Linked DNA regions of Homo sapiens: region 2 is linked to region 1. The links come from fine-mapping of genetic effects on gene expression. A gene starts in region 1. The other region holds a variant in brackets. All regions are shown on one strand. Distances are from middle to middle. Region 1 holds the start of ATG4C (autophagy related 4C cysteine peptidase). Region 2 overlaps ATG4C (autophagy related 4C cysteine peptidase).

Region 1 (12,341 bases):
TCAGTCTAGTAATTCCAAAACTATTTTATGTGTGTTGTAGGATAGGTTAGATGAGTAAAAATAGTGATATAATTGAGAATCAGAATTCTCTCTTTGGGAAAACAGAGATATAAACAGGAATTGGAAGGAAGTGATGAGAACTCTGCAGTGTTGAATTTGAATTGAAGGTATCCTATGAACTCATGATTTCTTAAAAAATGTATATGTTGGCCGGGTACAGTGGCTCACGCCTGTAATCCCAGCACTTTGGGAGGCCGAGGCGGGTGGATTACCGGAGGTCCGGAGTTCGAGACCAGCCTGACAAACATGGAGAAACTCTGTCTCTACTAAAAATACAAAACTAGCTGGGTGTGGTGGCACATATCTGTGATCCCAGCTACTCGGGAGGCTGAGGCAGGAGAATCGCTTGAACCCAGGAGGCAGAGGTTGCGGTGAGCCAAGATCCGCCATTGCACTCCAGCCTGGGCAACAAGAGCAAGACACTGTCTCAAAAAAAAAAAAAGTGTATATGTGTGTCCATTTAAAGGGTCTAGAACCAATGACACCCCAGTAGCAAAGAGCATATTCAATACCCAGATCTTCATTTCTTTTATTTCTTTTTTTTTGAGACGGAGTCTCGCTCTGTCGCCCAGGCTGGAGTGCAGTGGCGCGAACTCGGATCACTCCAAGCTCCGCCTCCCGGGTTTACGCCATTCTCCTGCCTCAGCCTCCCTAGTAACTGGGACTACAGGCGCCCGCCACCACGCCCGGCTCATTTGTTTTTTTATTTTTTAGTAGAGATGGGGTTTCACCGTGTTAGCCAGGATGGTCCCGATCTCCTGACCTCATGATCCACCCGCCTCGGCCTCCCAAAGTGCTGGGATTACAGGCATGAGCCACCACGCCCGGCCCAGATCTTGGTTTCTAAGAATCATTTTCCACTAAAATAAACCAGGACTCTGTGGTAAAATGGCTGATTCCATGTATTGAGCAGGAAATTTACAAGGTGAGGCTGGAACATCTTATTGTGCAAATAGGAGTAAGAAAGTGCTCAAACACCAATGTGGACATATCCAAAGTTCATGGGAACCAGCTTGAAGGATCTACTACTGACCAGATTTGAGATAATTTCATCACCAAAAGGAATGATGGTAGCAAATTATAACGCACTGCATAGATTTTGAAAAAAAGGATACTTGGGTACATAGTGATACTAAAATAAAAAAGAGAAAGCTCTTATTTAGAGAAGAGAGCCAGCAAATACATGTAGGAATGACAGAAGTGGGAAATCACTATTTGGCAACCACCAATGCTTTTATCAATGGCTACTAAAATCACTGGATAGGAAAACAAAACCTGCAAAACAGAATATCCACATGACCTCAATTTATCACCCCTACAGATTACTAAATACAAAAGGGAAAACATACTTTCGGAATATAAAAATCTGGCTAAACTAAGTGATCAAACTTAATCACCAATAATGGAATAAACGATCATGTTAATCCTAATATGATTAAATGGAAAGTTCAAAACATCACCCATGTAATAGTAAAAAAAAGAAAAAAGAAAAAAAAAGAAAAACCCACAACTCTTCAATCTGAAACTCATTGTGAGGAAAAAATCAGATAAATCAATTTTGTGAGGCATTCTACCTGAAGACAAAAAAAGAAAGAAATGATAAAGACTGTTCTAGATAAAATAGACATATAAGTACTAAATACAATTAATGTCTTTAATTGGATTCGGTATTTTTGTAATGGTATAATGACATTACTGGGATATTTGGAAAAATCTAATTGTTGAATATGGACTGCATATTAGACAATATTATCATATCAAGGTTAAATTATTTGGATATGCTAATGGCATTATAGTTATATAAGAGAATGTGCTAGTTCTTAGGAGATGCATGATGAATTATTTGGGGGTAAAGTGTCACGTTGCCACCTTACTTTCAAATAGTTCAGCAAGAAAAAAAGGTGTGTGTGTGTGTGTGTGTGTGTGTGTGTATTTATAGAGAGAGAAACAGCACTTGTCTAACAGCAAGGAATGAGAGCAAAAGAGGCACTATGTTAACAACTAGTGAATCTAGGTAAAAGGATGTACAGGTATTTGTCATACTACCATTTCAATGTTTTTACAGGTTTGAAAGTAAAAAGAAAAAAATAAGGGAAAAAGTAGAAGTTAGGTTGATTTTAGAGCAGCTGATCAGACTTCATAAAGCCTAACTACTCTTCACCCTATTCAATAAGAGCTAAAAGCAAGTTCAAACTTCGAAAAGGTTTGGCTAAAAATAAAGGTAATAATCCTAACAAACAATAAGTAATCACAAACTAATCACCATAAGTTTTCTATCACAGCTGTAAACTACACATAATCTCAGAACTCTGTGAAAGATGTTATGTGCTGGTGTATCTGGGACAATAGTGAATAAGCAAAACTATTTTATATATTTTCTCCAAATCTAAATACCAAATAAATTTTTTTTCTCAAATTGAGTTTTATTAGTTACAAGGTATCCTAAAATTAAAATGGTGTCACAGGAGTCAAGATGATCTTGAACCCAGTATCACTATTATAATAATGATAATAAACACTTAAAATCTGTACCAAGTATTTTATTAACCTATGTATATATATCATTTCATTTAATTCTCACAACAATTCTATAAGGCTGGCACTATTATTATCCTCATCTTATAAATTTAAAAAAAAAAAGGCTTGGAAAAGCTGTATAACTTCTTCAAGGTCATACTGCTAGTATACAGCAAATAGAGACCATGAATCCAGGCAGTCTGACACCAAAGTCTCTTTGCTCTATACACTCTACCACTTTACTAAGAAATGTAAAATTTAAACAATAAACTATAAATCACTACTGTTTGGGTTCAATATCTATCAAAAATTACATGAATGAAGCATTTCAGAGAAAAATCACAAGTATGTATTTTTCCCTAATGCATGTATATTTATGTATGTACCAAATGAATGAAGTTAGAATTTAACCAGATGCCAGTTTACTACCAAATCTCAAGTGAAAATAAAGATGGCATGTAACTGCATTATTCAGTTACCTATTCATATACATGGTTTAATATATTACAGATAGATTCAAAACAGAGACCAACATATTTCCAGATGCTTTCATGTAGAACCCCACCCCTGCTCAATCAAGAAAAAATGATACCAAAAAAACCTATTTTAGGCATAGTATTACTCAAATATACAAAACTACAACAATGACACAAAAGGGTAAAAATAACTAAGAAATTAACCTTAAACACTGCTACCACAACAAAAAATACTAATAAACAAAGCATGTTTCCCAAACCTGGTCCTCTTTCGATGTTCTCTACCTCGGTGAAGGGTGCAACAATCCTTCCAGTTATATAAGCCAAAAACCTAAGATTAGCCCATGATATCTTCCTCTCCCTCACCTTCCATATCTAATCCATCGCCTAGTTCCACCTCCTGAACACCTCTGGAATCCATCTTACCACCACCACCTTGTCCAAAATACCATCTCTCAATTGGGCCACTCCAACAATCTTCTAACTGGCCTCTCCCCATCCCCACTCTTATCCCCTCTGTAATCAGTTCTTCCTCTGTGTAACATCAAGTCCTTTTTTAATAGCATTTACCACAGTTGTAACTTTAAATTTCTTTGACTATTTGATTTATGTCTGCCTCCTCTGTTAGTAAATTCTATGAGGGTAAACACCGTATTTACTCACTACTATACCACTGTGGCCTAGAAGAGTGTCTAGTTAATAAATAAATGCTAAATGATTGAATGCATGTCAAATATTACAATTTTACTTATATATAGTCCAAAAAATAAAAATAAAGTGCTTTATAAGGCTCACCAATTATTCTATATCACAGATTTTCACTTGTTTTTTTTTTTTTTGAGACAGGGTCCTAATTTCTACCTACCAATCCCTAACCACTATTTAAATTCCACATTAGATCTCATCTTCATGAAACATTCCCTAGTTATCTCTCTTCTCACCTTTAACATTCTAAAACACTCCCGTAAAATCTAATACATATTGACTATATTTTCTGCTTCTTGAAGGGAAAGTTTACATCTCATACATTCTGCTAGAGTATAAGCTCCCTAAGAGCAGGGACTTTTCTTGTTCACTCTATATCCCCAGCACCTTGAAGAGTGTCTGGTATGAATAGCTGCTCAGTAAGCATATGTTGATTTAACGCTCTTTATATATTTCAGGATAGAGCACAGATCCTTGCAGCTGTTGTACAGTGGGAAGAGTCGAAAAGAACTGAATTAATTTCCTTAAATTCTTCAAGCTTCAGTTTTTTCATCTGTTAAATGTAAATAATACTCAATAGCTTAGTTGGAATAACTGCGCTAATGCTTTAAAAGTATCTATGCAGAGCTGAGGACAAGAGGATACTCTTACAAACAAATGTTTTGGTGATTTTGTGACAATAGTTAAATAGTAAGTAGTCACTAAATTCCTACTAAATGAATAAAATCTCAGGAAAAATATTAAAAGATTGAGTAATGGCTACCGTATCATTTTTTTCAATAAAAAATTATATGAGTAAATTTATTCTGAAATATATTTCGCCCCAAATCTTAAGCATGGCTGAAACCATTTCAGCATTTTGTGCATTAATTAGGAATAATCCCAATTTAACATTGTACCAGTATTAATATTTATATTTTACTGACATGTATAGATCATACTTGATAGCTTAAAAAAGAATGATAATCTTAGTATAAGAACCTCTTTAGTGCAATAATTGGAATAGAAAACGAGCTGCAAACTCATTTGAGTTACGTGGTTCCCCAGAAAGCCAGAAAATTTCTGCCTTTTTATAAAACATTAGTGAACAGAATACGATGCTGTTCACCAGAACCATCAAAACATCTAGAAATACTTCATAACCAATCACCATAAATACATTTTTCCAAATACTTGAATCCTATTTTAAAGAAAAAGAGCATTAATTAAATGGCTTTTAATGACTTTTTGCTAAATTATACAATTCTTTAGATGGGCCACTTTTTGACATGTGGTTCTAAAAATTTTATAGCGAATGAACTGGTAATTCAATATAGCCTCAGATTATTGGACTAAATAGAAACTCTTCCTGTTCAAAGAAGAAGCTTTATCAATTTGAAACTCAGAAAATACATAGACTTTACCTTTCAAAGCCTTTCCACTCCCTCTGGGTATTCTCAATGGCTCATAATCTAATTACAAGTCACAAGCAAGCAAGAAGATCATTCCCTTGTCTCTTTCTGCCATCAACTGACACAAAATCATTGCCAAAAACCCACCGGGGACATATGGTCCGAGCAGGAAAACATAAGAAAACTCCTAAGTAATTCGGATATAAAAAGATGTAAGACGAGGTATTCTTCTGTAACTATAGGGTAGCAGTGAGCCCCATGTGGGTAAATAACCAATACAAAACGAAAAGGTAAGCCAAAGAAATCACAAGAAATATAAACTCAATAAGCAGTGATGCTGAGTTGACCGCTGAAGGTTCTCATATATGAATATAGTCATCATATGTAAGAATTTATTCTACACCTCCAACCTCAAAAGCCCTTAGATGTGGGTAGGGTTGGGAGAGTTCACGGTGAGCGGGAACCAAATGAAGTGAATGAACGTTAATATTTAGATGGAAAGGCATTAATATATGCAAGGCAGTGTGTTATGGCTTGAAGCAGTAACAAACACCAAAAAGGGAGAAAGAGGCTAGGAATGAGAACAGAGAGACAGTGGGGATCCAGTTATTATTATTATTTCCCTTTTTTTATTTTTTAAACGAGGAAAAACAGGGCCGACAGAGCACTGGCATGAGGAGGGGTCAAATGGATGCGATAGATCAGGGGAAAGAGTCTTGCCTGCAACATCTAAGAAAACCACAAGGAAAGGAGGAACAGCTGCCCACAGTTAGGCTTACGGTTTATCTCTGCAACCCAGGACAAAGCGAGGAAGAGTTAGAAGACAAATGACACTAGAAAGGAGAGACAAGGAAGGCGCCAAAACCCTCAGAGAACCCAGATGGTTGGCCACAGGGTCTTCACTGAAGGCGGACCCCCGCAAGAAACCCAGTCATTCGGGGACCAGAGACGCTAAGTCCCAAACTTCTTGACTCCTTTAGCCTCAAGCCGATCCCTCACCGAAAGAGAAGGACTGGAGAACTGTAAAAATGTGCAGGAGCCACCAACCCGGCAAATGCTCCAGCTCTAGCAGCAGCCGCCACAAAACCAGCCCGCACACACGCAGACGTTCCGACCTCAGCGCCGCAGCTACAGGTACTTTGAGCACCCCGGCCACCGTAGTAAGAGGAACCGCCTCCGCGTCAAATCCAACAGATCAGCCACTTCCGGGATACGAAAGCCTTGCGATTGGCAGTAGCGATAGCAGCGGCGTAAAGGCCTCTGCTATGCTTACTTTATCCATCCCTTTTTCCCACCTGTTCGCCACCCCAAGCCGCTAATCCACCAATGCAGCAAGCGCAGAACCAAGAGAAAGTATCCGTCTGTGAGCATTGTCTCTCTGATAGACAAACCACATTACGGCTGCCATAAATTCCTCTCGAGCACTTGGACTTCAACTACCAGCAGGCCATGCAGCATCACGCCCTTGCCTCTGGCGTAGGAACTGCAAGATCCAGCATGCATTGCGGCCCTCCTTCCTCGCACTCAGGACCAAGATAGAGCCAACCCAAGCCTCACTTTGATTTAAAAAAAAAAAAAAAAAAAAAGCCAGGATGCCTTCTTTTCCTGTTGTGAAGGAACTCTAAGCCAAGCCATTATTAGGACTGTAGGTTATTTATAAAACATCAAGGGATATGTGCACTCATTTTCCATATTCAGATTATTTTCAAGCATTAAAACACAGGACAGTCGGGCGCGGTGGTTCGCGTCTGTAATCCCAGCACTTTGGGAGGCCGAGGCGGGTGGATCGCTTGAGGTTGGGAGTTCGAGACCAACCTGGCCAACATGGTGAAAGCCCGTCTCTGTTAAAAAATTAAAAAATTAGCCGGGCGTGGCGGCGGGCGCCTGTAATTCCAGCTACTCGGGAGCCTGAGGCAGGAGAATTGCTTGAACCCGGGAGGCAAAGGTTGCAGTGAGCAGAGATCGCGCCACTGCACTCCAGCCTGGGCGACAGAGCGAGGCTTTGTGGGGAAAAAAAAAAAAAAAAGAAGGAAAAGAAAAAGAAAGAAAGAAAAAAGGACGGTCCGAAGATGCTTTTTATAACGTGGAAATTTTTGGCCAGGCGCGGCGGCTGACGCCTGTAATCCCAGCATTTTGGGAGGCCGAGGCGGGCGGATCACTTGAGCCCAGGAGTTCCAGACCAGCCTGGCCAACATGGTGAAATCCCGTCTCTACTAAAAATATAAAAAATTAGCCGGGTGCGGTGGCGCGCGCCTGTAGTCCCAACTACTCAGGAGGCTGAGGCGGGAGAATCGCTTGAACTCGGGAGGCGGAGTTTTCAGTGAGCCAAGATTGTGCCTCTGCACTCCAGCCTGGGCGACAGAGCAAGACCCTGTCTCAAAAAAGTAAAAATAAATAAATAAATAAATAAATAAGTGGAAATTTTTATCTTCACTCCTAAATGATGTCAAGAGAAATACTGTTACTGTAAAATGTAATCCTATGCCGTTTTACAGTACCGCAGATTTTGTTGGAGCAAGGACTACCAGACATGCTTCTGAATTACATAGGAAATTATACTAAAAACTAAAAATAAAATATGAAGTCTATGCCACCGGACTATGAAACCACATGGGAATGAAAACCTTCAAGAATGAAGAGTTGAAAAGTTCAAAATTAAACTTGAAATTTTTTCAATTTTTTAGTGGATTTGGTGGTTTAAATTTTTTTTTATTCTCACAGAAACAGGTAGCTGGATCTATTTATTTTTTATTCATGTACTTGGACAGCTAAATAACAAAACAACAAACAAAGGATATGATAAGATCACAAATGGCACACTTATTAGAGTGAGCAAAGTAGTTTTCTTGCATGATTCCATAGCTTGTGGTTTCCTGTTTCGAAATCCCCAAACTCTGTTTTGATTTTTTTTAGGAGAGAGAGCATGCATCTAACAAGCTGTTTAGATGCCTTTTTGTAACTTTCATAAAGACCTGGATTACAAGAATGCATGTATTTTATTTTTGGTATTGTGCATTAACAGGCCATGAGAAACAATGCTTGGATTCTTAAAATAACTATATATACAAAAGTAAATTGTGTGTATACTACAGACTTGGGTTTTCTGTAGATTTGCCACAACAAATTTTAATTGGTTAGAAAAAAAGGAGTAGAGTACCTTTCCTTTTTACAACTTCACACAGAAATCACAGGAGGAAACTATATTCTGCAACACTGACATGGCATCAGCTGTCATACAAACTGCTTTCCAACTCTAGTGCGTTAAATTATGCAGCGCTAGCAAGTAAATATTTAAAATCTATGATCATGGAAAATAATCTGCTGTTTTCCATGCTCATGCACCAAAACAATATGAATGCAGTGAGAGAGGACATTTCCATTGGAATGATTCAAAGGTAATGTTGATAAACTATAATTAGGTTATCTGATATTCATAGGTGTTTGCCGTAAATAAACACAAAATTGCATCCACTTATTAGTGATGTTATTAAGGAAGCTTTAAAAATATGCTAAATATTTGATACACATATTTCTAAAGTCGTTTCCATGATCAATTGTGTAAATGAACATGGGAGTTTAAAGAGTACATAATTTATGTAATAGACTTTATGTTTTTTGAAGAGATTCTTACAGCTGCAGCACTCAGACAGAACATTCTCTCCTCTAAATGTGTCTTCACATTCCAATTCAGCCAATTGCCAACCATGCAAGAGTTAAAACTGAAGAAGCTGTTCGTTTTAGTTCAACAAAAATAGGATGAGTGCTACTAAGGGCAAGGCTCTCTGTCTGGGCACTATAAGCTGTTTATGAAACACTGATAGTTTTGGAAATTAGTTAAGATTTAAAGGGAAATTAAAAGCATACATGAGCTTTATCAGAATAGAAAACAAAGTAAATATGTGTAACACTGACTTTTAATAATCATCACACATTTGGTTAATTGAAACTTATAATAGCTAATATACCTTCTTAAAGGCAGGATCCGCATCTTAAACATCTGTGCCCCTCCCAGCTCTATGCACAGTACTTTGTGCAGAGTAACTGGCTCTCAATGAGTGTTTGTGGAAGTTCACAGTGATGACTAGGCTGGGTGCAGTAGCTCATGCCTGTAACCTCAGTACTTTGGGAGTCCAAGGCGGGTGGATCACTTGAGATCAGGAGTTCAAGACCAGCCTGGACAACATGGTGAAACTCCGTCTCTACTAAAAATACAAGAAAAATTAGCCAGGCGTGGTGGCGTGCGCCTGTAGTCCCAGCTACTCGGGAGACTGAGGCAGGGGAATTGCTTGAACCCGGGAGGCAGAGGTTGCAGTGATCCAAGATTACACCACTGCACTCCAGCCTGGGCGACAGAGCATGACTCTGTCTCAAAAAAAAAAAAAATTCACAGTGATGACCGAGGCCCCGAAACTGCCTTTTCATGAATACTGCGTAGTTTTAATGTAAGCTGTTTCTAACTCTTGTGCTTTATTTTTTTAATTAGTAATTCAGGTTGTATAATAAAATAACTATTAAAACCAGAATAATCAGAATGTCACATTCAATAATCATGAAAGCAACAATTTACATACACACACACACACACACACTGCTTAGTATATGTGTGTGCGTACTTGTGTATACGTGTGTGTGTGTGTGTACTTATATATAAAAAACACATTTATAATATATAGGTAACATTTATCTTAAGAGTCAAGCCCTTTCTAAAATGTCATCGTATTCCAGGCATATACTTTGAAAGTATACCAACCATTCTAATAGCATTGATTGTGAGGCAGCTCCAGATTTTTGTTAGGACACTTTTACTTCTTAACTTCTATCAAGTGTATTTCTTATCCATCTCCTTCCTGGACCAGGAAAAGATGAAGATTCTATTAAATAAATGTATACCATGAATGATTCATTGGGAATGTTATGTTAAGCGACATTGAACTCAGCCTGGATGGAATGAATACCTTGTAGACTTCTAAAGGCTAAAAAATTATTTTAAAGAACCCGGGAGGCGGAGCTTGCAGTGAGCCGAGATCGCGCCACTGCACTCCAGCCTGGGTGACAGAGTGAGACTCCATCTCAAACAAAAAAAATTAGAAAAAAGAAAACTTGGTGAAAACCTTTCCTCTTTTCCAAGTAATCTTATTTCTATCCCCTCTCTTATATCTTCAACCTCTTTCTCTCTCTCTCAACTATGCTCCCTTTACTTCAACAAACAAATGTGCACAGAATCACCATAATTGTGAAAGCACCTTCAGTGGACTCAGCTTTCCTGCTAAATGCAGTCACTCCCAATGCCCAGGCTAGAGTGCAGTGGTACGATCACAGCTCACTGCAGCCTCGACTTTCCAGGCTCAGGTGATTCTCCCACCTCAGCCTCCTGAGTAGCTGGGACTACAGGTACATGCCACCAAATCCGGCTAACTTTTTGAATTTTTTTGTAGAGATGGGGTTTCCCCACATTGGCCAGGCTGGTCTCAAACTGCTGGGCTCAAGAGATCCTCCCACCTCAGCCTCCCAAAGTGCTGGGATTACAGGCGTGAGCCACTGCACTCGGTCTGGTCTATTCTATCTTCTCTTTTTCCTTTCATAACCACACTTCATCAAGTGCTACAAAGTAAACCTTAGCCTTGACATGCAGCATGGGATCTCTTCACAGCAGCTAGTATTTACTGAACACCCACACCTATGCTGGAAATATAGACAGAATTCAGTAAGGAGCTTATGGTCCCTCAATACAATGTGATAAATGTTATGCTAAAAGTAAGGACAAGACTTTAAGAGAATGAAGAAGGTCAGTTACTCTCAAATTGAGTGAGGACCCTAGAGGAGGAAGTTCCCAAGATGATTTAAATGACAAAAATAAGAATTAACTAGCTGTAGAAGAGGGAGGTTCAGCCAGTTTAAGACAACCTGTAAATTCATTATAGCTGGAACAAGAGAGTGGGGTGAATAGTATGATATAAGGCTGGAAAGACAAACTGGAGCTATTTCACAAAAAGACTTTGTAGACCAGGCGTGGTGGCTCACGCCCGTAATCCCAGCACTTTGGGAGGCCAAGGTGGGTGGATCACCTGAGGTCAGGAGTTCGAGACCAGCCTGGCCAACATGGTGAAACCCCATCTCTGCTAAAAATACAAAAATTAGCCAGGTGTGCTGGTGGGCGCTTGGTAATCCCAGCTACTCAGGAGGCTGAGGCAGGAGAATTGCTTGAACCTGGGAGGAGGAGGCTGCAGTAAGCCAAGATTGCACCACTGCACTCCAGCCTGGGTGACAGAGGGAGACTCCGTCTCAAAAAAAAAAAAAAAAAAAAAAAAAAAAAAGACTGTATACTATGATACTAAGACTGTATACTTTAACCTAAATATAAAGAGAACCATTTAGGAGTGACATAACTAGATTGCATTTTAGTCTACTATTTGCTGTATGAAGAATGGATTGGGCTGGCAAGACCAATTAGGAGATTGTTTTCATAATTCAGTTTTTTACAATGAGAGATCTGAAATAAAGTACTCTAGGGGCGGAAAGGTATTATATCTTTCCTCCCTGCCATAAGAGTCATGGCCAACACTCCTGTAACAAAAGACAGGTTAACAAAAGAAAAGCATTACAAATTTATTTAATCAAAGTTTTATGTGACACGGGACCCTTCTGAAATGAAGACCCAAAAACCCAGGGAAAACTGCCCCTTTTTATGCTTAGATTTGATGAAGAGTGGACAGCCATGGAGAAATGCAATTAGACAAAAAGGAAATTATCTAATAGTAATTGAGTGGGGAAACCCAGTAGAGCCTGACTGTTCAGATTCTTCCTGCCCTCTTTGTGTGACATTCTTCCCTCCTGGGTACAGGTCAGGACTCCTTCTGGAATGTGGGTCTTATGATTTACTTTCAGTCGAGGTAGGTCAGAGAATTCCTTTCAGGCCAGCTCTTACACTGAAAGGTGGGGGAAGGTTAGAGTAGTATTTCTAGATTTTATGGCAGACTTTGGGGGAAAGGCGTTCTAGTTCCTATGACCTGCCTTGGGGAAGAGGAATTCTAGGTTCTATGGCCTCCCTTGGGGAGAAAGGCAAACCGGAGAAAGAAGAGCAGGAGAAGGTCAGAAAGAGATTTTGCATCTGAGCCTTTCCAGTGTTCTTCAAAGCACTCAGCATGCCAAAGTGTCATCGTTTGGGGTGTTATCTTCCAAGCCCCAACAGTAG
Region 2 (12,341 bases), 51 kb before region 1:
CCATCACTATAAACATGATTTTCAAATGGTGTTTTAGTTCATCCTACGCAGATGGTCCTCTCCACTCTGCAAAACTGTAAAATATAAGAGCCAACATTTTTATATATTTAATTCACCAAATTTCAACCTTTTGTGATATTAGTGCCATTCTGCAAAAGAAAGGAAGTGTGTCAAAAGTGGTATGCATTTCTAACACTTGAAAACATGAAAAAGACATGAAAAAAGTATGAGGCTTAGAATCAAGTTAGCCATTTCTATTAAAATGCAGTTAAGTCTGTTTTGTTGGAGATTTTGGGTTAATGTTTATAAACCTTTTAACAAGGATATCGAGACTTTTTAAACAAATACACAGACTCAGGTAAATGTTCTATATTGACATAAAAAGAGGTCAACTTGAGGGTTTTAGCAATTCACACAATTAGTACATAACTGCGTATTCTTCAACTTTCTCTTTGAGTGTGCTTTAATTCTTGTTTCTTCTCAGGGAACAGGCTGGAACAGGTGAAACCATTCCATTATGGTCCCTGCCCTCTTTCTCATCAGTCCTTTTGTCTCTTTAGTTCACTTTTCTCCAATAGACACAGTGCCACAGATATAAATGGGCTGGGGAGGCTGCCCTAGTTTCTCTACTGTCTTGCTAATGGATTTGGCTGTTAGTAGAGTTTGGCATCTTTAGGGAATACAAAAGTAGAAAAAGGGCAGAATATAAAAGTAATCACTGCAATCTTTTTGTTCCTCACAATCACACCTTAGTACTATGTTTAAAAATTTTTTTAATGCTTAAATGCTTAGCCTGTCCTTAAAAATCACTGAAGTGACCAAGTCTTTTTCTGTATGTAGAAAAAATAAGTTTGTGTTAAAAAGAACATAAGACTGTATATTCATATTTATATAAATAAACTAAGGATATACAAAAATTAACAAGTCTGTGGTAAAGGGAGAGAACTGGGCAGATGGGAGATAAGTGTGGGAAATTTTTGAATTAAAGAACAAGCTCAATTAAGAAATAATCTAGGAGCTGGGTGCTGTGGCTCCCATGTACAATCCCAGCTATTCAGGAGCCTGAGGCAGGAGGACTGCTTGAGCCCAGAAGTTTTGAAGCTGCAGTAAGATATGATCGTGCCACTACACTTCAGCCTGGGCAAGAGGGCAAGACTCCAACTCCATTAATGGGAGGGGAGGGGAGGGGAGCTGGATTTGAGCTCATAAAATTATAGTTTCCCTACATTCAATGCCTAAAACTAAGGGATTTTTAACTTCATGCTATCTATTAAAGTGTGGAAAAAATAAGTTGTCATATTTGTTATGTTCATGGTGAAATCAATTAAAATCACTCTTTCTCTCCCTGTACATCCTAGTGACCCAATTTGTATCCCGTATCATCACCAAAAGATATGCAAAATATATACATTCAAGCTGCTTTTTTTTCCAATGAAAAGTTCAACTGCATATTAGATTCAAATCCAACAATATGTCACTCAATATAGGGCAAAATATGAGTTTTCAAAACTATGACTTCTGCAAAATGCTTAGCTAACTTACTTTATATACTGAGATTCAACCTAGCTAAACTGGAACCTCCATGGCACTAGTCAATACAAGTATAATCTTAGTTGGACTTTTTCTAACATTGATCTACCTGTTACATTAGCAAAGAAATATTTAAAACAGAACTAGAAAAGCACAGAAAAGCTAAACAAACTGGTTAGTTAACAATTTACAGGAATATGAGTATATTAGGGTATATGGCACAGTTCTAAGTCATATTTATAAGAAATTATTCTACATACATGGTATCTACAAATAACCATTTGCCCAGCTCATTCGAAAGACAATCACAAGGAATGTTTCTTAACTTTTTTACCAGTTGGGGATAAGAAGGAGGGCCAAAAGCTTGTACATGGTCTAATAATATATTTTTGAACTCATCTACAAAGGGTATTCTATATTATACTAAAGCACTGGTAAAAGTTTTCATGTAAGAACTTGAGTCAGGCTCATGCCTGTGCCCAGAAATTCAGAAGGCTGAGGTGGGAGGATTGCTTGAGGGCTGAGGTTTGAAACCAGCTTGTGCATCATGGCAAGACCCCACCTCTAAAAAAAAATTTTAAATAGCCAGGTGTGGTGGCATTCACCTATAGTCCCAGCTACTTAGGAGGCTTAGGTGGGAGAATTGCGTAAGCCCAGGAGTTTGAGGTGCCAGTGAGCTATGGTGGTGCCACTGCACTCCAGCCTGGGTGACAGAACAAAACTCCATCTCTAGAAAATAAAAATTTTTTAATTTTAAAAGGCTTTTCATGTAAGAACCAATAATACTAAACCAGAATAGTCTTATTACTATCTCACTGTACTGACTACAACCATCATAGATAATAACAAACACTAAATTGTTATTCATGGTTGTTTTAATATCTACAAAGAACTTTTAAAATATTCACAAAAACACAGATATAAATCTCTGATCACTTAAACTGATATTGGGTATTGCGGCATGAGCACTAGGACTCATACAACAGAGAGGCATTTTATATCATTTAAACTTTTTTTTTTTTTTTTGAGATGAAGTTTCACTCTTGTCGCCCAGGCTGGAGTGCAGTGGTGCGATCTCTGCTCACTGCAACCTCTGCCTCCCAGGTTCAAGCAATTCCTCTGCCTCAGCCTCTCGAGTAGCTGGGATTACAGGTGCGCACCACCACGCCCAGCTAATTTTTTTGTATTTTTAGTAGAGACGGGGTTTCACCATGTTGGCCAGGCTGGTCTCAAACTCCTGACCTCAGGTGATCCACCTGCCTTGGCCTCCCAAAGTGGAGGGATTACAGGCGGGAGCCATCATGCCTGGCCATTCATATCATTTTGTTCATCCAAGAAGATTCAAAGGCCAACCAACATGAATTTACAATTCACAATCGTTGTCTATTGCAGAACAAGTTAAACTTTCAAATATTTTCCTAATTCAGGGCTATGTTCACTTCGTGATAATTTTTGAGCTATGCACTTAAGATTTTTTTTAATTTTTAAAATTCTAATGATTGGTAAGAGGAGTAGCATCTACTTGACAAACGCACTTTAAGGAGTATTCACTAGATACACTTCTGTAACAGTGTTTCTGGAAATACTGGCCAGAGAGAATCAATTCCCATTTATTTCATTTTTTGATACATTGTTTACCAATTGCCCTAATAGTTATTAGGCACCTACAAAATGACAGGCACTATTCTAGGCTTATTGTTTAGAATAGTGAAGTCTAATTACCTAAACATACCAAAACCATACTGAAACATATGCTTATAGGTACAGCTATGCTATTTTGGTGATTCAGATGAAGCTTCCTAAGACAGTTAATTAGAAAATACCCTTAGTAAAAAGTACCTACTGATAATTAACCGGGTATGGTGGCACCCACCTGTGATCCCAACTACTTGAGTGGCTAAGGTGGAGAGATCGCTAAAGCCCAGGAGGTCAAGGCTACAGTGGGCTGAGATTACACACTACGCTCCAACTGGAGTGGTAACAGAGCAAGACCCTATCCTCCACCCAAAAGACAACATAAAAAAAACCTACTACTAATTGCAGTTCACATGTGTAATTCATAAAGGGTATTATCTTTCACTGAAGAATTCACTCATCCAATCTAGATGCCCACATCACGTAATTCTAATAGTTTTACTGCCAATATTTCTGAATTTCCTAAGGTAGATTAAAACAGTTACCACTGTATGAACCTCCTAAAATTTGACATTTGGAATTGGGGACCCAGCAATCAGAACAAACTGACATGTCTATTAATAAAGCTTTTCTTACATACCCTCACTGCCAAAGCCCATTTGAGGTCTCTTCTCACTCCCTTCTAATTTCAAGTTGTTCTTTGATGACTTTTGTTTAAGGTTGTTCATGCTGCTCCTCTGAACCTCATTTTCTGTTTGAAAATTACAGTGTGAGTTTCTACATTATAATGTGCCCTCACACTGAACCATGTGCTCCATTCCTCAGTCCTAACCAAAGATATCCCTGGCATATCTTCACTACTAGACTTAGGATCCAAATATAACTGCTGATGTTCACTTCACAATGTGTTAAAAACTCACTGAAGATAGCTAAAAATGAGGAAGAGTCTCTTAAAAGTTAGTATAGAAATTCAATAGGATATACTAATTTATTTCAGAAGAAAATGTCACAAGAATTAAACATTAATAGAAATGTATATAATCAAAACACTTGGAATCACAGAGAAGAAAAGAGTTCAACAGAGGACTCAAGGGCTTAGGAAAGTCCCTTGCACCTAGAAAGAGCTCATTAAAAAAGAAAGAAATGAGTTACTCTGATTTGGTTTCAAAATGTTAAGAGTTCAATTCTAGAAATGTAGAAATTCAACACTGTAAGAACAACAAAAAATGCAATCTGTTTAAATCTCTTCTTTAATCTCAAATATTCTCATATCATCCCACTTCCTTAAAATTTCACAATCTATTAGATTTAGGGCACTCAAAATATCAGAGGACTACCACCAATTATTTATGTGGAATCAGTGGATGATTTAAGGTTTCAATTTCTCCATCTATTAACCAAAAAAATACTGACCCAAAAAGTTCCCTATAAAAATGATTTTAATAATTGAAGTATAAGGGTGGTTTTAGAATATGCATATAATTTTTTACATTAATCAACTACATAATTTCACTAGCTATAAATATACAAGCAGTATAGCAAAGCAAGGATGGTTAGTAATACAGGGTAGTTAAAACACCTTCAATTGGTGTATTATAAACTTAAAAGATGATAAAAAGCAAAAAGTGAAATTTTATTCCTCTACAACTTGATATAATTTTTATATTATACTTTCATAGGAAAACAAGTGATGCTATAACTAAAATAAATCCCTTCACTGCAGAAAAATAAAAATTTTTAACAGGAATTTTCCACACAGATTAAGATATTCTACCAGGATCTTAAAAATATAACATCTATAAACCCATTCTATAAGTGTCCCACTATATAAGAAATGTTTCTGTGCATTTAAGAAGTCAATTTTAACAAATTTTACCTTACACAGTAAAATCTTAAAATCAATTATTCCTTTCCATTTTCACTATCACCAGCCTACTTCAAACCTTTATTATTAATAACTCCCTCTTGGAGTGTTGCAACAGTCTCCCAATAATGAGTTGAAGCCTTTCTAATTTTGATTGTATACACATAGCCAGGATATTCATTCACTTGGTATCTTTGCAGTCTCTCAAAATATCAGATGGATAATTTCTCTCTACTGGCCAAAATAATCAGACCAATAATCTTTTAATTTGCTTATTTAGGTAATACTAAAATACTAAGAACAATTTTCCATCTAAATCTCAAGTACCTACTGTTTATAAGGAGTCAATTTGGCACTGATCTACTGGAAATGTAACTTGGACACAAGAATCAGTGCTACAAGACCACAAGGCAGAAAGAGAATTACGATGTAGTTCACATGGCACAATTATTCTGTAGTGCCTTCCCCAGTACCAATCAGTCAACTAGCAAATATTTATTAAGGTGCAAGATACTATGAAAGAACAAAATAGACCTGACCTCTGGCCTCCAGATGCTTATACTTTAATTGAGGTAATAGTTTACAAAGGATGCCAAAATGTTTTATAATATATCTTTCTGAACCAGATTTTAACCTTGTGGTTTATCTATTTTCATATTCTACCTCTTAAATACTATTAGGTGTTAATATTAGCTAGCAAGCAATTACTAAAACAAAGTATTCAGCTATATTTGCAACTCATCAAGTCCTTGAAAATTAGTGATCCATGACACTCAAGTGATTTAAGTTATTTTATTCTGTAAAATTACTTTAGTCTGTAAAAGCACCAACTGGGAAAACAATCAAAACCATGTAATAATTACATGTTTCATTTATGTATTCTCAAATTTTTCTGAATTAAAATACTGGATCACAAAATGACCTGTATAAAGGAAAAGAAGAGGTTAAGAAATAAAAGCTCAAAAAAAATTAGAAACCCAACTAAGCTCTTGAAAACTTCCTAACTAAAGGCTAAGATTTAATTACTGTACTCAAAGCAAAATAATTTAGCAGATAACCGCATTAAGTCGCTTTGTTACTCTAACCCGTCTATCCCTTTCTATTTTTCTTTTTTTTTTTTTTTAAACAGGCCTTACATTTTAAATTCTTCAGTACTGTTTAGCTGTCTCTATACAAAATTACTTGGAGACTTGATCATTTATTTTAGTATGGCCAGGGTTTCTAACAAGTTAGAGACAAAGATAAATGAAGAAGAAAGTATATCATAAATTAAAATTCAGCAACAAAGTACTTAACCTTTGACCACTGTGTTAATTATGGTTCTATAGATCAGTAAAATATTGATTATTAACCAGTAGTTATAATACCGTAAAAGCATAGCTACCTAGCACATCTCTAAATAATTAGTTTACTTCATATGGTAAGAAAACAGTATCAGCTTTTTATCCACAGTACCTCAAGAGGGAAATCCTTTATGCTGACATCTACAAAAGATTGGCAGTAATGAGGATCCATGTAAATCAAACTGTCATCTACAAGGACAAAACAGAAGACAAGTAATTCAAAAAACACCTTATTATTACACTGCTTACAATCCAATTTCTATGTAGAACAGCTGAAAAAAATCTGGGAGTAACAGCTTGCCAGACTGATATTCATTGACTGAAACATAGGTTTGCACAGGATAGATTAACTTTTGCATAATCAAATATGCTTGTATAAGCAGAATTTTTATAAAGTGATGAGACTGTCATTTAATTTTTGGTGATAAAATTGCTTTCACAAACACACAATTATATTCTACAGTTTGCATATGAAAAATGTATTGCACTTCTTTATCTTGACAGGAAGAACATATTGCTTGTCATTTTATCATCTACTTGCACCACTAAAACTGGTAAAAAGTAAATATGTAAACAGCAACTGCCAGAATGTGGCAGTGATGTTTTCTGAAGTTTAGCGCAACCAATAAATTATGCCTTGTTTATGCAGTAACAGAAATTAAACATATATTTTACAGAATCTAATTATGTTGTGGACCAAATGACAAATGAGTGGCTATAGTAGGACTGATGAATGTATAAGGTACTCGTTTTGCTCTGTTAATCATCCTGTTTCCAGATGATCTCATATTAACTTTCTGACTTTTAAAAGAAAACAATGAAGAAATATATTTTACTAAATCACTAACCTTGAAATCCAGCAAAGTAATATGACTGTTTAGGTTTGCCACCAATAATACCCACA[CAA/A]TATTCCAGGCTTAAAATACCCTGCCAAAAAAAATTAATACAGATTTAGTCAAGAGGCAAGTGGTAATTATTCAAAGCAAACAAATTTCTATTACTAATATTAGTAGCTCCCAAATTTACCACTACCAGTTATCATTTATATTACATTTGCACCCAGGTTCTGAAATCCACTTGTCTTCCAAACTGCCTTCCTTTTCTTTAAATCACTCAACATTAACATGACAAATCAAATATTTTGATCAGCGTGTTGCTCAACAACATTAAACAACTACTACATAGAGAGATAATCAATTTTACCACCGTAAGGCAATAAAATTCCTGCCAAAGCCAATACACTTAGCCTTCCAGTTAGCTGGTGCAGCTTCACTGTGATCAACGTAAAATTTTCGTCAGGCTTTTTGAAATGCTAAAGATAGTTCTTAGTCCTTACTGCTGTTTTCATTGAACCTTGAGTCTTAGAATCACAAATTGAAAGCCATTTTCTAATCAATGGCATTCACTCAAATTTTTTATGCTACTTCATTTGAAATAAAGAGTAATGAAAATAACTTAATCCAATGAAAATAATAATTATTGCATTTAAAGCCAATTTATTTTACTAATCATAAAATATCAGGAATACCACAATAAATTATTTAATACACCCCTCAGCAATCTATTCTAAGCAGAACTCTATTTAAGTTAGGCCAAATCAACTCTATATCTTTTTAAAAACATGTCCAATTGAGTAAGTTTAAAATGTCTAGTGGAATCAATTAATGTCTTAACAACAGTTCCTGCAATAATTTTGATATATCCTATAAAACACTAATAATGATAAAGTATAGGTTATAAAATCCCAAAACTATTAAACAATAATTAAGCTTTCCTTCTCTTAAATGAGAGGATGTTTTGAAATCTCTAAGATATAAAAATAAATATATGGACAAACGTTCTTTTTCCTTTAACAAGTAACCAAACCATACAGAACACACACACATACAGGAAATACAGAAAAAAGTGAAACTTTTCCCAAATTCCAACACCCAGAGCTCATCATTATTAATATTTGGGGGAACACCTTCTTAACATCTGTCTACATTACATACATACACACACAGATTTACAAATACAATTTTATATATGTGAAATCTCACAACACATGCCATTGTAACCTTTTGTTGCTCATTATGTCATGAATATCTTTTCCTATCAATAAATAGAGATCTATATTAATAATATGTAGTAGCTGAAAAATATTCTATTTTATGACAACAAAATGTGCTTTAAAACCTCCACTATAAATATTTAAGTCATTCCAAGTTCTCACTGTTATAAGTAACCCTCCACTATAGTTTGAACATTTTTATTCCCTCCAAAATTCATGTGTGGGAACTTAATCCCCAATGTAGTGTTGAAAGCTGGAGCCTTTGGGGAGGTGTTTAGGTCATGAGGGCAGAGCTTGCATGAATATCAGGTTAAAATCTTAGAGCTAACTAAAAATAAAGATAAAATTGTATCAAAAATCTCAATGTTGCTATAAAAAGGACTTGCAGGAATGGTTTCTCTCTCCTGCTCCTCTGCCACGTGAGGACAGAGTTCGCCCTCTTTCGGCCCTTCTGTCTTCCACCATGTGAGAGCGCAGCAAGGAGACCTTCATCAGATGCCAGTGCCTTGATCTTAGATTTCCCATCCTCCAGAACTGTGAGAGAATAAATTTCTGTTCTCTATAAATTACTCAGTCTCCAGTATTCTGTTACAGCAGCAAAAAATGGACTCGGACACCCTCTAAAGAACAACCTTGTATATTCTTAGTATTGTAAAAATATCATGAAGTTTTTTCTGAAATGATAAACTGAATGAGAGCTGCAACTGAAAAAATTAAACAGAGAAAGCATATCAGGTTAAAATCTTAGAGCTAACTAAAAATAAAGACAAAATTGTATCAAAAATCTCACTAAACAGTAATAAAGTTACTTATCAATTAAGAATTCTACTGTTTTCCCCCTAAATAAAAATCCTTAATACAATTAGAGAGTGCCTTACTTCGAGGCAGTCTGATCAGTTGAAATGCAATGTTTATATCATAGAGACCTGTGAGGCAGTGAAAGTTCTATGTCTCTTACAACTGAGAAAAGAAAGAAAAAAATATATAGCAAGGATTGTCACTGACTCTCCTCAGAAAATGAATGGTTCTAAGTAACGGAAGAAAGACTTTGGTTCTTGACATCTGTATTTCCCTTGCAACGCATTAGAGCAAGTTTAGTAATAAACGCTTAGAAGCAGATTAGGAGCTAGAATGCCTTTACATGTAAGAGGCTGTATCTTTGGATTGAAACACTTTTCAGTTCCTAAAAGAGCTTCTTTACAGTTATTTTTCTAGTGGTGAAAATTTATTGAGCTGTATCCATGAAGCAATAAATAAGACTGAAGTAATCAGTCAAAAAAAAAGTCCTAATTTGTCTCACTGAAGAAAAAGAACATATTGGATTTTCCTCATTCCAGGTCCTTAAAAATACATACATACATACATAAATAAACCTCCTGTGGTAAGGACGAATAAAGCACACAACAAATTTCCTTCTTCTCATACAATGTAGCAGGATGCTATGTTGGCACTATCTCTGAAATACCTTGTTTAATAAATTTGAAAAATAGAACTGAACAGTACATTTTAGACTCACCAACGCACATTGGTTTGGCAGGAAAAAATACAACGGCTGACCATACATGAAAAAAAGGAAAAAATTATTTTTCTTTTAGGGCTAATGAACACACTACCTTTTCACTTCTAAGTGAATACCTCTTTACATGCTCTCATTGGGGTTTGACTCAACCATCCCCTCTGGCCAAACATAATACCTATCATATAACCTACTCCACTTAACCATTTCAGCCATTTTTACCTAACTGGAAAATCAAAATGTTTCAATAGTCACTGCTCTCCCACTGTAGTGGACTACGGTGTAAATCAAGTTAGTAAAAGCTCGAGAAAATGTTACCTTTCAAAAAGTTCATGTTTTAGAGAAAACCATGAAAAACAAACTTACAGTCAAGAAAAGTCTAGTCTCTGCTACCAGTTTGCTATCTGAATTTGGATATATCACTTGACTTCTCTATGTCTTTTCTGTTTCATAAAGACAATCCAGTTCCTAGCTACTGTGAGGGCAAAATGAGATAAATTTACATTGAAAAGTATTATACAAATTAGGGTTAACAAATATGTATTGAGTAACTCCTATATGTTAGATACTGAGGCTTCACTTTAACAGCTTAACCATAGTTCATTTCACTACAAAAAGAAAAGTCCTAATTTGTCTTGCTGAAGAAAAAGAACATACTGGATTTTCCTCATTCCAGGTCCTTAAAAAAATATAAATAAATAAACCTCCTGTGGTAAGGACCAATAAAACACACATCAAATTTCCTTCTCCTCATACAATGTAGCAGGATGCTACATTTCACTACAAACCATGGTCAAGCTATTAACCATGAATCACTCAAGAGCATTAGGCAGTGAGACCATCTAATGAATACTATCAATACCACCAAATAGCAAAGTCCTCAGCCAGATGAAACATGCCTGAAGCCATTTGCAACCCATTCCACCAGGAATGAAGCTTTGGCTAAAGGAATCAGTTCCAAGACTGCATCAGTTTCTAATCTTCTCATGGTAGTAGAGAAGGCAAAAAAGAATCCAGTTCAGATTTGATTAGAACCCACCTAGAGATGACAACATGTCAGAAGTCTCAAAACCCTCAACAGATTCTCTAGATGAAGTGGTTCACAGCTTCTCATACTGCACCAATAACCCTACTAAAGATACATGTCAGACATCAAAACCTTACCTTTATTTGGAAGATTAATATGTCATTGATATATTACAGTATTGTTACTCTTAGTAACAAATGTGCTTCCAAAATTTTAGTAACTATTAAGAAAAGCCAGTATACCAGCTAAAAAACTTCCATGTATATCATATGTTAAAAACAACTGCTCTAGATTTCTAGAATTAGCACAATCTACCCTGAGAATAGATGTTCCAACTAAATATATAGAGACTATAACATGGGATGCCTCATGGAGGGAACAAATAGTTATTAATCATAAAAGATAGATTCAGACTTTATTTCAACATTACTATATCCCATAACACTCCATTTAAAGAAGAATTCCAACTATTGCTGCAAAAAGAGACTACTAAAAAATGAAGAATTTTATTGAAACTATGAAAATAAACTAAAAACTTCTGCCTTAATCAGAAACTATTTCCAAGGTATTTTATCATATGTGAATGTCTTGGTGCCCAAAACAAGATACCATAACTACACAGGTTCTTTTGAAGCAAGAAACCAAACAATGTGCTCCAAGAAAGAACCGATTTTTAACTGGTTAAGATGAAAAAAACAAAGTTGGAATTCCTCCAAATACTATCTTCATATCTTCATTATTTCTAGCTATAGAAATAATCTCATCTCTTATTGACATCATGGTGTCACAGGAAACATATTATGAGATAACATAGCAGTAATAGAGAGTTTTTTCAATAATTAATGTGATGTAGTTTAATGCTAGTTTTATGAATAAAGATATATACTTAAAATTACAAATAAGAATAATGAAACTGTAACTATATTACAGGTTATGATTATTGCTGCATCTGTGTCTCCCTGATTAGCTACAAAGATTAAAAGGCTTTTCATTTTGTTATAGAACACTGTGCTCTTCAACTCACATTGGTCTTATAATACCAAAATTTAAAATCTCTAATGTCAAACTTTACAACGTACAACGTACAACTACAAAATCATCACTACTCATTTAACAGAAAAAAATTGCAAACCTTCTATATTTTTCATATTAGCTAGTATTGCCCTAAAAAAGTTCAGCACTTATTTCATACCTTCACAAATTCTAAGTAGTCGGTGTTGGTTCTTTCTCCACCAAGTCTAACAGGAACTAGAATAATAACAGCTTTGTCATCTGCATTATCAGAAGTCATGGAAGCACTCTGTTTATCAATTACATCAGAATTGTAAACTGAGAAAAACATAATGAATATGTATTAAATTTTATATAAAAGC

What was found. PIP is the estimated chance that this variant, and not a neighbour inherited with it, causes the effect.
Region 2: its variant is fine-mapped to the expression of ATG4C in whole blood (TOPMed, PIP above 0.99).

What each region holds. Positions count from the first base shown.
Region 1 is chr1:62,778,081-62,790,421 of GRCh38, reverse strand. It overlaps ATG4C (autophagy related 4C cysteine peptidase), which reads right to left and starts at 6,290. Exons shown (of 11, transcript NM_032852.4): 1 at 6,149-6,290. RefSeq lists a silencer at 5,810-6,104 and enhancers at 6,080-6,259, 6,380-6,439, 6,540-6,589.
Region 2 is chr1:62,828,996-62,841,336 of GRCh38, reverse strand. It overlaps ATG4C (autophagy related 4C cysteine peptidase), which reads right to left. Exons shown (of 11, transcript NM_032852.4): 7 at 12,161-12,297; 8 at 7,221-7,299; 9 at 6,485-6,561. Among named protein-coding and RNA genes, the nearest start is that of ATG4C, 51 kb to the right of the region's middle. The variant CAA/A (reference allele first, on the strand shown) is at 7,277.